Linked DNA regions of Homo sapiens: regions 2 and 3 are each linked to region 1. Evidence: fine-mapped expression QTL. A gene starts in region 1. Each other region holds a variant in brackets. All regions are shown on one strand. Distances are between the middles of the regions. Region 1 holds the start of AHNAK (AHNAK nucleoprotein). Region 2 holds the start of LOC102723765 (a long non-coding RNA gene). Region 3 has its middle 15 kb from the start of SCGB1A1.

The links.
Region 2: its variant is fine-mapped to the expression of AHNAK in monocytes after interferon gamma (Fairfax 2014, PIP 0.95).
Region 3: its variant is fine-mapped to the expression of AHNAK in NK cells (Gilchrist 2021, PIP 0.95). The same link has a PIP of 0.9 or more in monocytes, monocytes after LPS and monocytes after interferon gamma.

Annotation. Positions count from the first base shown.
Region 1 is chr11:62,545,289-62,548,089 of GRCh38, forward strand. AHNAK (AHNAK nucleoprotein) reads right to left here and starts at 1,518. Exons shown (of 5, transcript NM_001620.3): 1 at 1,372-1,518. RefSeq lists enhancers at 25-535, 536-1,046, 1,625-2,155 and silencers at 190-319, 850-969, 980-1,029, 1,310-1,379, 1,500-1,669.
Region 2 is chr11:62,426,669-62,429,340 of GRCh38, forward strand. It overlaps LOC102723765 (a long non-coding RNA gene), which reads right to left and starts at 255. Exons shown (of 4, transcript XR_007062699.1): 1 at 19-255. RefSeq lists an enhancer at 1-40. The variant A/C (reference allele first, on the strand shown) is at 1,219.
Region 3 is chr11:62,432,351-62,435,151 of GRCh38, forward strand. It overlaps a transcript of AHNAK not described here. Among named protein-coding and RNA genes, the nearest start is that of SCGB1A1, 15 kb to the left of the region's middle. RefSeq lists enhancers at 1,723-2,224, 2,225-2,724. The variant T/C (reference allele first, on the strand shown) is at 1,417.

The DNA of each region.
Region 1 (2,801 bases):
AGCCGTTCCCCACCTTGTTGTGGGGCCTCGGCTACAGCTGAGAACACCCATCTGCCCCCTCCGCACCCCTCCCAGCAAGGGGCACAGCCAGCCCTGTTTGGGCCCCTGGAGTCCCTCATGGTCAGCGCCGCCAAGGGGCTGCGCCCCCACATCCCGGCCTGGGCACTGCTGGGGGGCGACCAGCCCTGCCAGGGACGGCCCAGGCCCTCGCACACTGCACACACACACCCCCTCCCCTTGCATGGGAAAGCCTTACATAACACAGCTCTGCACACACCCTAAGCACGCTGCCTTTCCAACTCTAGGCGAGACCTCGCTTCGGGCCCCCTCTCCTGGCGCGCACCGCTGGAGCGCAGGGTTCCAGCGAGCGCAGCTTAGCCCTCCTCCCACGCCAAGCCCGGCTCCTGCCCCCAACTCCCACACACAGCCCCTTCCTCCTCCCCTTTGCCCCTCACCACTCCTCCCTGAGTTCTGGTTTGAATTAGTCACCGGCTCCAACCACCACATTCCTCAGGCTGCTGGCGCCGGGCCAGGCTCTGGGGCGGGGGCCATCCCGCCCGGACGGGTTTGGGAGTTGGGCGGGGGGAAAGCGCCGCCTCCGGAGGGGAAGGGGCGGTCCCGAGGACTGGGCCGCCGCAGCGCACCCCCCTCCTCGCCCACCTCAGCATAGGAATCTCCCTAATTTTGTCCCCCTCCCCACCCATCCCGCTGGGAGGCGCATTGCAAACTTCCAGGTTCCGCGGCCCGAGAGGAAGGTTTTCTGGAGCGGGGAACGCGGAGAGGCAAGGCTAGGGCGGGGCAGCTGGAGGAGGCTGAGGGGCTGGTGGTACAGAACAGGGTGGGGCCTGGACGACTCGGGACGCGGTTAGGGGCAGAGGTGCAGGGAGCGCGGAAGGACAGCCGAGGGGGCGCACGGTGCGGGGTCGCGGAGGCGCGGAGGCGCTGGGGGCCGCGGTGGCGATCTCGGAAATTTCCCCTCCAGTAAACATGGGATACGAACGGAGCAGCCCCCGAGCCACCGCCCCATGCAGGGAGAGGAGGTGGGACAGAGGCCACCAGGCCCGGAACGGGGCGCCCTGCCTTGCAGTGGAGCCAACAGTCCGCCCTCCGGAGAAATAAAGAGTGGAGCAAAGCACTTCGGAGCGATTTTCCAACTTTAACCAACTTGCGCCCCAACTCCAGAGGCAGAACTCCGCTCCCAGAGAGCGACGCGTCGCCGCCCCGGGTGGCCCCGCTTGCTCCAAACTGCTTGAATCCTCACAGTGACACCCCCAACAACGCGCCCTGCCGGAGCACCGCAACCCACCTCCCCGCGACCCGCCCTTGGTGCCCCGGACCCCGATGGCGCCACGGTGCGCCTGGCGCCCCTACCTGAGGGCTCAGCCCCAGGGCACGGCCATAGCCGGCGCGAGGCCCAAGGCTGCGGTGCTGCGGCTACTGGCGGCGACGAGCCCCGTTCCGGGCGGGTCTGGCAGGGCGGGCGGTGCAGTCCCCGCGGCAGAGCAGCTCCGAGTGGCCGGGCCCCCGTGCGCGGAGGCGGCTCTTGTAACTCCGGCTCGGGCGGGCGGGTCTGCCCGGAGCTGTGGGGAGAGGGCGGGGCCGGGCGGGGCCGGAGCGGGGCTGGGACTGGCGAGCGGGGCAGACCCTGGAGGGACCCGGGAGTGGGCTGCTGGGGAGGGGGGCCGCTGGGGGACGCGGGGACATTCTTTCCCCCCCTCCCCGCATCCACTGCCCCCTGTCCTGTCCCGGACCTGGACCTGCTCTCCAACATGTGCACTGTGTGGCTTCATTGGCAAGAAACTCCTGCAGGCTCCCTGGGCTCACCCTCACAGCTGGAACTGCGAATCAACTTATTTTGCAGGAAGGGCCTGGGGGCTCTGAAGGTGGCTGGGTGATTCAGCCGCGACCGTCAGCTTGCTCCGGACCTTTGAGTTTTCTCTCAGCTTAGGCAACTACACTTCAGATCCCAGGCCCCAGCCTCCTTGCTTGGTTCCCAAGCTCCGTGCTGCCGCGCCCATTTCTCGCGTTCTCTCTTTCTGGGGGCCCCTCCGTCCATATCCGCACAGAACTGGCTTGGATTTCCACCCCCCAGGAGCCGGGGTCACCAGTGCCTCGCGCACCGCGGTGCTGCGCAGGCCGCGGGCATACGGGGGTGAGGACCCCGGGCGTTGGACAGCGGACCCGACGCCCACCTTCCTCTCCAGACTCCCGCCCCCAGGAGCCAGAGCCCCAGCGCTTCCTCTGCCTCCCATTCCTTCTCTGAGCGCCGCCCCCGCCTCCCCACTTGCGGGACGCTGAGTCTCCTAATTTACAGCGATTTCCCACAGCCACTTCTAACTACATCGAGATTTTATTAAACGTTTAATGATGGGGTGCGGGGGCCTTCTGGCTACACACTCCCCTCCACACTCCCTTTCTCTTCTCCCTCATGAGTCCTTTTATCCTCCCTCCTAGGTGGCCACCCACTGCCCGCTCCAAGCCAGTTTCCCCTCCTTCCCAAATGCTAAGGAAAGAGAGACCCCAGGCTGGGGAACTAAGGAGACCTGGCCAAGGCAGGAGCGCCCTCCTTGCTGCAAGATCATGAGTGGGCTGGAGCTGAGACCAGCTCGGCCCTGTCCTCTGAAATGGCAAACATGTTTACAGGCTAAAAATACCCAGCAGTCAACTCTGCTGCCAGCCCTGGGGGCTGTGTCCAGGTCCAGTTACCGGCACAGAGTACAGGCCGTGGGGGAGGGAAGAGACAGCCAGAGGAACCACAGACATGGGCACTCATATAATGGACACAGAAAGGTGGAGCCGCA
Region 2 (2,672 bases), 120 kb before region 1:
TCATCCTAAAGCACATACCTTTGCGCTGGTGGGCCATCCGCCTGGATGAGTATTGTTTCATCGGATAAGCTTCCAGAGCCATAAAAGGTTCAGAATTTTAATTGCCTATTCACAGCCAAGGGAAACATTTACCCAGGGCCAATGCAAGGCAGGTATCTGAGGAAAAGAAGCACAATTACGGTGCAGAGAGGCTTGAGGCTGGGGACAACACTGCAGGAATCACTGTGGGTGATTCACAAGAATGTGGGCTATGCCAATCCACAGAAATGGGCGTTAAATTTTAAAACAGCAGAATGCAAAGATAAACTGATTGCAACCACAGGAAGAGCATGTAACTGTGTGATGCATGTTGACAGAAAGCAGGAAATTCGAGAAATGAAGGCACTGTTCACTGGGTGCTTTTCTGTCTGTGTGTAGTTACTCACACCAGTTACTCGTGTATTATAGCATGGGTCTGTAGACTATGGCCAGCAGGCTAAGCTCAGGCTATGGCCTATTTTTTTTTTTTTTTTTTTTTGAGACGGTTTCTCACTCTGTGGCCCAGGATGGAGTACAGTGGCGCAATCTCGGCTCACTGCAACCTCCACCTCCCAGGTTCAAGTGATTCTCCTGCCTCAGCCTCCCAAGTAGCTGGGATTACAGGCGCATGCCACCATGGCTGGCTAATTTTGTATTTTTAGTAGAGACAGGTTTCACCATGTTGGTCAGGCTGGTCTTGAACTCCCGACCTCAGGTGATCCGCCCACCTCAGCCTCCCAAAGTGTTGGGATTACAGGCATGAGCCACCGTGCCTGGTCATTTGTTTGTATTCTTAGTAGAGACGGGGTTTCACCATGTTGGTCAGGCTAGTCTCAAACTCCTGACCTCAGGTGATCCACCCGCTTCGGCTTCCCAAAGTGCTGGGATTACAGGCTTGAGCCACCACGCCCCGCTAAGACCACATTTCTTGATCACATTGTCAAGAAAACTGAATCTGAGTGAAAAACTTTTTGAAAGTATCTGTTAACCCTGAAATCTGCAACCAAAGGAAACTTACTCTGGAGGAAAGCTAAAGCAGAATGGTAGTTGTCAAACACCGCCATCACGTTGCAAAATCCAGGGGCTTGTGTCAATGTGCCTGGACTAATTGATCAGTAGGAAAGCTGCCGTTGTGTATGAGAGACAGTTGAGGTTAGCCTGACAGAAATATCTGTAAATGACTCATGAGGCAGGAAGAAG[A/C]AGCAAAACCAGCCTTCATTAGCCTTATCACGATGATATGGATAAAATTATGTCTAGTTTGCAGCTGATGCAAGCCCTGCTGTTTTCGAAAGCCAAGGGATTTGTGGGCAGTAATCACCATAGGGGTGTCTGCCACTCAAAATGGCTTCAGATAGACGATCAAGAGAAGTTTTATTGATGATGATGAGGCCACACAAACAATGCATTCTGAAACATGTAATTAGGGGATGTTCCTCCCAAGCACTTTCAGAATACACCAACAGGCACATGGGGATAATGTGAGGATGAATCATCAGTAGTTAGCCACCCAACATATTTCCATGAGCAAACTAAAATTATAAAACTATAGTACATGCAAAAAAATCTGAAAATAGACTGGGCACGGTGGCTCACGCCTATAATCTCAGCACTTTGGGAGGCCGAAGCAGGCGGATCACCTGAGGTCGGGAGTTCGAGACCAGCCTGACCAACATGGAGAAACCCTGTCTCTACTAAAAATACAAAATTAGCCAGGCATGGCGGTGGGTGCCTGAAATCCCAGCTACTCGGGAGGCTGAGGCAGGAGAATCGCTTGAACCTGGGAGGCAGAAGTTGCAGTGAGCCAAGATCGCACCATTGCACTCCAGCCTGGGCAACAAGAGCAAAACTCTGTCCCCAAAAAAAAAAAAATCTGAAAATACATTTAGCTAAGCTAGCATGGGAATTGATTGCCAGCTTGGGAATTGATAAACCGGGGGTTTGGAACTCAGATTTGTTACCCCATCAAGTGAATGGATTCCCAGCTAATCACAAGAGTCTAGTTAACTCTGAAAATACCTGCAGTTATATGCCCATAGCTGTAACTGCCCGGTGGGTTCACCTTGCTCGCTGCCTGGACGGAGCCAATTTATCAAGACAGGGGAATTGCAGTGGAGAAGGAGTAATTCACACAGAGCTGGTGTGTGGGAGACTGGGTTTTATTATTACTCCAAACAGTCTCCCTGAGCATTCGGGGATCGGGGTTTTTAAAGATAATTTGGCGGGTAAGGGCTTGGGAAGCAGGGAGTGCTGATTGGTCAGGCTGGAGATGGAATCCTAGGGGGTGGAAGTGTGGTTTTCTTGCTGTCTTCTGTTCCTGGGGAGGATGGCAGAAATGGTTGAGCCAGATTACCAGTCTGGGTTGTGTCAGCTGATCCATCGAATGCAGGGTCTGCAAACTATCTCAAGCACTGATCTTAGGTTTTACAATAGTGATGTTATCTGCAGGAGCAATCTGGGGAGGCTCAGACTCTTGGAGCCAGAGGCTGCATGACCGCTAAACTAAATTTCTAATCTTGTAGCTAATTTGTTAGTCTTGCAAAGGCAGACTGGTCCACAGGCAAGAATGGGGTTTTTTTTAGGGAAATGGCTATTATCAATTTTGTTTCAGAGTCAAAACATGAACTGAATTCCTTCCCAAAGTTAGTTCAGGCCTA
Region 3 (2,801 bases), 110 kb before region 1:
TGTTCCCTGCTTTTCTGTTTCTAGGTAAAGATGAGATTAGTTGGCCAGGCACGGTGGCTCACCCCTGTAATCCCAGCACTTTGGGAGACTGAGGCAGGTGGATCACCTGAGGTCAGGAGTTTGAGACCCACCTGACCAACATGGAGAAACCCCATCTCCACTAAAAATACAAAAATTAGCTGGGCGTGGTGGCGGGTGTCTGTAATCCCAGCTACTTGGGAGGCTGAGGCAGAAGAATCGCTTGAACCCAGGAGGCAGATGTTGCAGGGAGCCGAGATCACGCCATTGCACTCCAGCCTGGGCAACAAGAGCAAAACTCTGTCTCAAAAAAAAAAGAAAAAAAAAAGATGAGACTCGTTTATGAAACTGGATTCCTCTTAAACCACAAATCCATCTGAATGGTATTCATTTCATGCTTGATAAATTTCAAGACCTGATTATTTTGCAATATCAATGTTGATAAAAGTTAAATATTAACCAGATAATCGAAAGTTATCCTTTAACGTCTGCTACCATAGAATAAGAATTTCAGACTGACCCCCAGTGACAGGAAACTTTGAAAAGGCGTGTGCCTGAAGAAACGTATCGATTGGCATGTTAAAAAATACATGTATTGGCCGGGCATGGTGGCTCATCCCTGTAATCCCTGCACTTTGGGAGGCCGAGGCAGGTGGATCACTTGAGGTCAGGAGTTTGAGACCAGCCTGGCCAATGTGGTGAAATCCCGTCTGTACTAAAAAAAAAAAAAAAAAAAAAAAATACAAAAATTAGCCAGGCGTGGTGGCAGGCCTGTAATCCCAGCTACTGAGGCCGAGGCACGAGAATCACTTGAACTCAGGAGGTGGAGGTTATAGTGAACTGAGATCATACTACTGCACTCTCCAGACTGGGTGACAGAGTGAGACACTGTCTCAAAAAAAAAAAGATTACATTTCTCCTTTTTTAGATAAATAAAGAGGAAAGAGAAAGGGGAGGGGGAGCAAGGGGTGTAAGAGGGAGAAAGAAAAGAGAGAAAGGAGAGAACGCGCGGGGGTTCTCGGTCATGTGGAGGCAGCAGTCATGTGCTGACTCTGAAAACTGAAAAAAAAAAAAAAATAGTGACAGCAAGCTGCTGCCTGTGGCCAACTCTCCCAGGGATTCTCACAACGCCAGGGAAGGGAACAGAGAAAACCACAAAGGTTGACACAAGAACAGATGCTTGATAAATGTTTATTGGATAAACGAGCGAAGGATAATCACCTGAGCACCATAGTTGCCAAAGCCCCCTCTAGTCCCAAACCTAAGCCCACACTCTGTCCCCTTGCAAGTAAAGAAATGCACCAAGCAGGGCTTATGCAGCAGCCCTCGGTCTGGCCTGGCTGGAGCTATAAACATGCATGCTCCGAAAAGCCGCCTCGCGGAAGGTATTCCTTTAAC[T/C]GCAGGTGTTTGTTGCCCTTGGCACAGCAATATGTAATTTCCCATTTTTAGAACAATGCTCCAAAGAACGGTCACAAAAACAACCTTAAGAGGGGGTGGTTTTCTTCCTGGCCGCTTCTACAGTCCTGTAAAACAACAACAAAGAGATTTATATTCAACACACTATTTGCATCTCTCCATAAAATCAGAAGATGGTTCGTTAACTTTGCACCAACTGAAAGAAGGTCCCCCCACTCCTTGCTAGGGCATCCAAACAAATGCTTGCCTCTGGAAGGGATAGATTTGGAAAGGATCCTGCTGTTGGGTCTCTTTTGGTCTTGCCACGCCTCCCTCTGTGTGGTTTCTGTGCGGCAAGGGTGGAAAGGAAGCTTGCATAAAGCCCGAGTCTGTCCTTTTGGTGCCCCCCATACAAGCCCGAGACCAGAAGAGGACAGTGTGTTCCCAAGAACATTCAAATAACAGAGGAAGGTAGGAACCGTGAAAACAGCTGCCACCTCCAGCCTCAGCCATTAAGAAATCCCTTTCATTATCATCTCCAAACTGACTTTCTCTCTTCCCTTTCCTCTTCATGAACCCTTTCTGCTTCATGAACCCAAGCAACTGGCTTTGAGACTTCATGGCCCTTCACCTTCCCTCCCTGTCGTCTCCCAGAGCCTAACTACTACATCTTCTGTCCCAGCCCAGTGCCTCCTCCCCGAGTCACACCCAACTCATCCCCATCGGACTCCCATGAATGCGCAGGTTGTCCTCTCATGGGCCTCCTGGCCTGGTCTCTCTCACCTCCCACGTGGGCCTGCATGCCCCAGGCTTCATCTTACACCTCCTGCGCTCAAGAAAGTTCAGCAACTCCTTTTCCAACAGAAACAAATCCAGCTTTCGGGCCAGGCGCAGTGGCTCACGCCTGTAATCCCAGCACTTTGGGAGGCCGAGGCAGGCGGACCTCCTAAGGTCAGGAGTTCAAGACCAGGCTGACCAACATGGTGAAACCCTGCCTCTACTAAAAAGAAATACAAAAATTAGCCGGGTGTGGTGGCACACACTGTAATCCCAGCTACTCAGGAAACTAAGGCAGAAGAATCACTTGAATCCGGGAGGCAGAGGTTGCACAGTGATCCAAGATCCTGTCACTGCACTTCAGCCTGGACAACATGGCAAGACCCTGTCTCAAAAAAAAAAAAAAAAAAAAAAGCCAGCTTTCTTAATGGGACCTCATCTGGAACCAGGCCTCCTTTCCTACTTTATCTTCTACTAGTCCCTACACAAGTTTCAAGCACCAACCAAAATCACCTGCTCACCCTTCCCAAACTTTACCTTGGCTCCTAAAAACTACCTCCTGCCCTCCCCCTAATTGAGAATGACCTTCCTGGTCTTCTCTCTGTGACTAA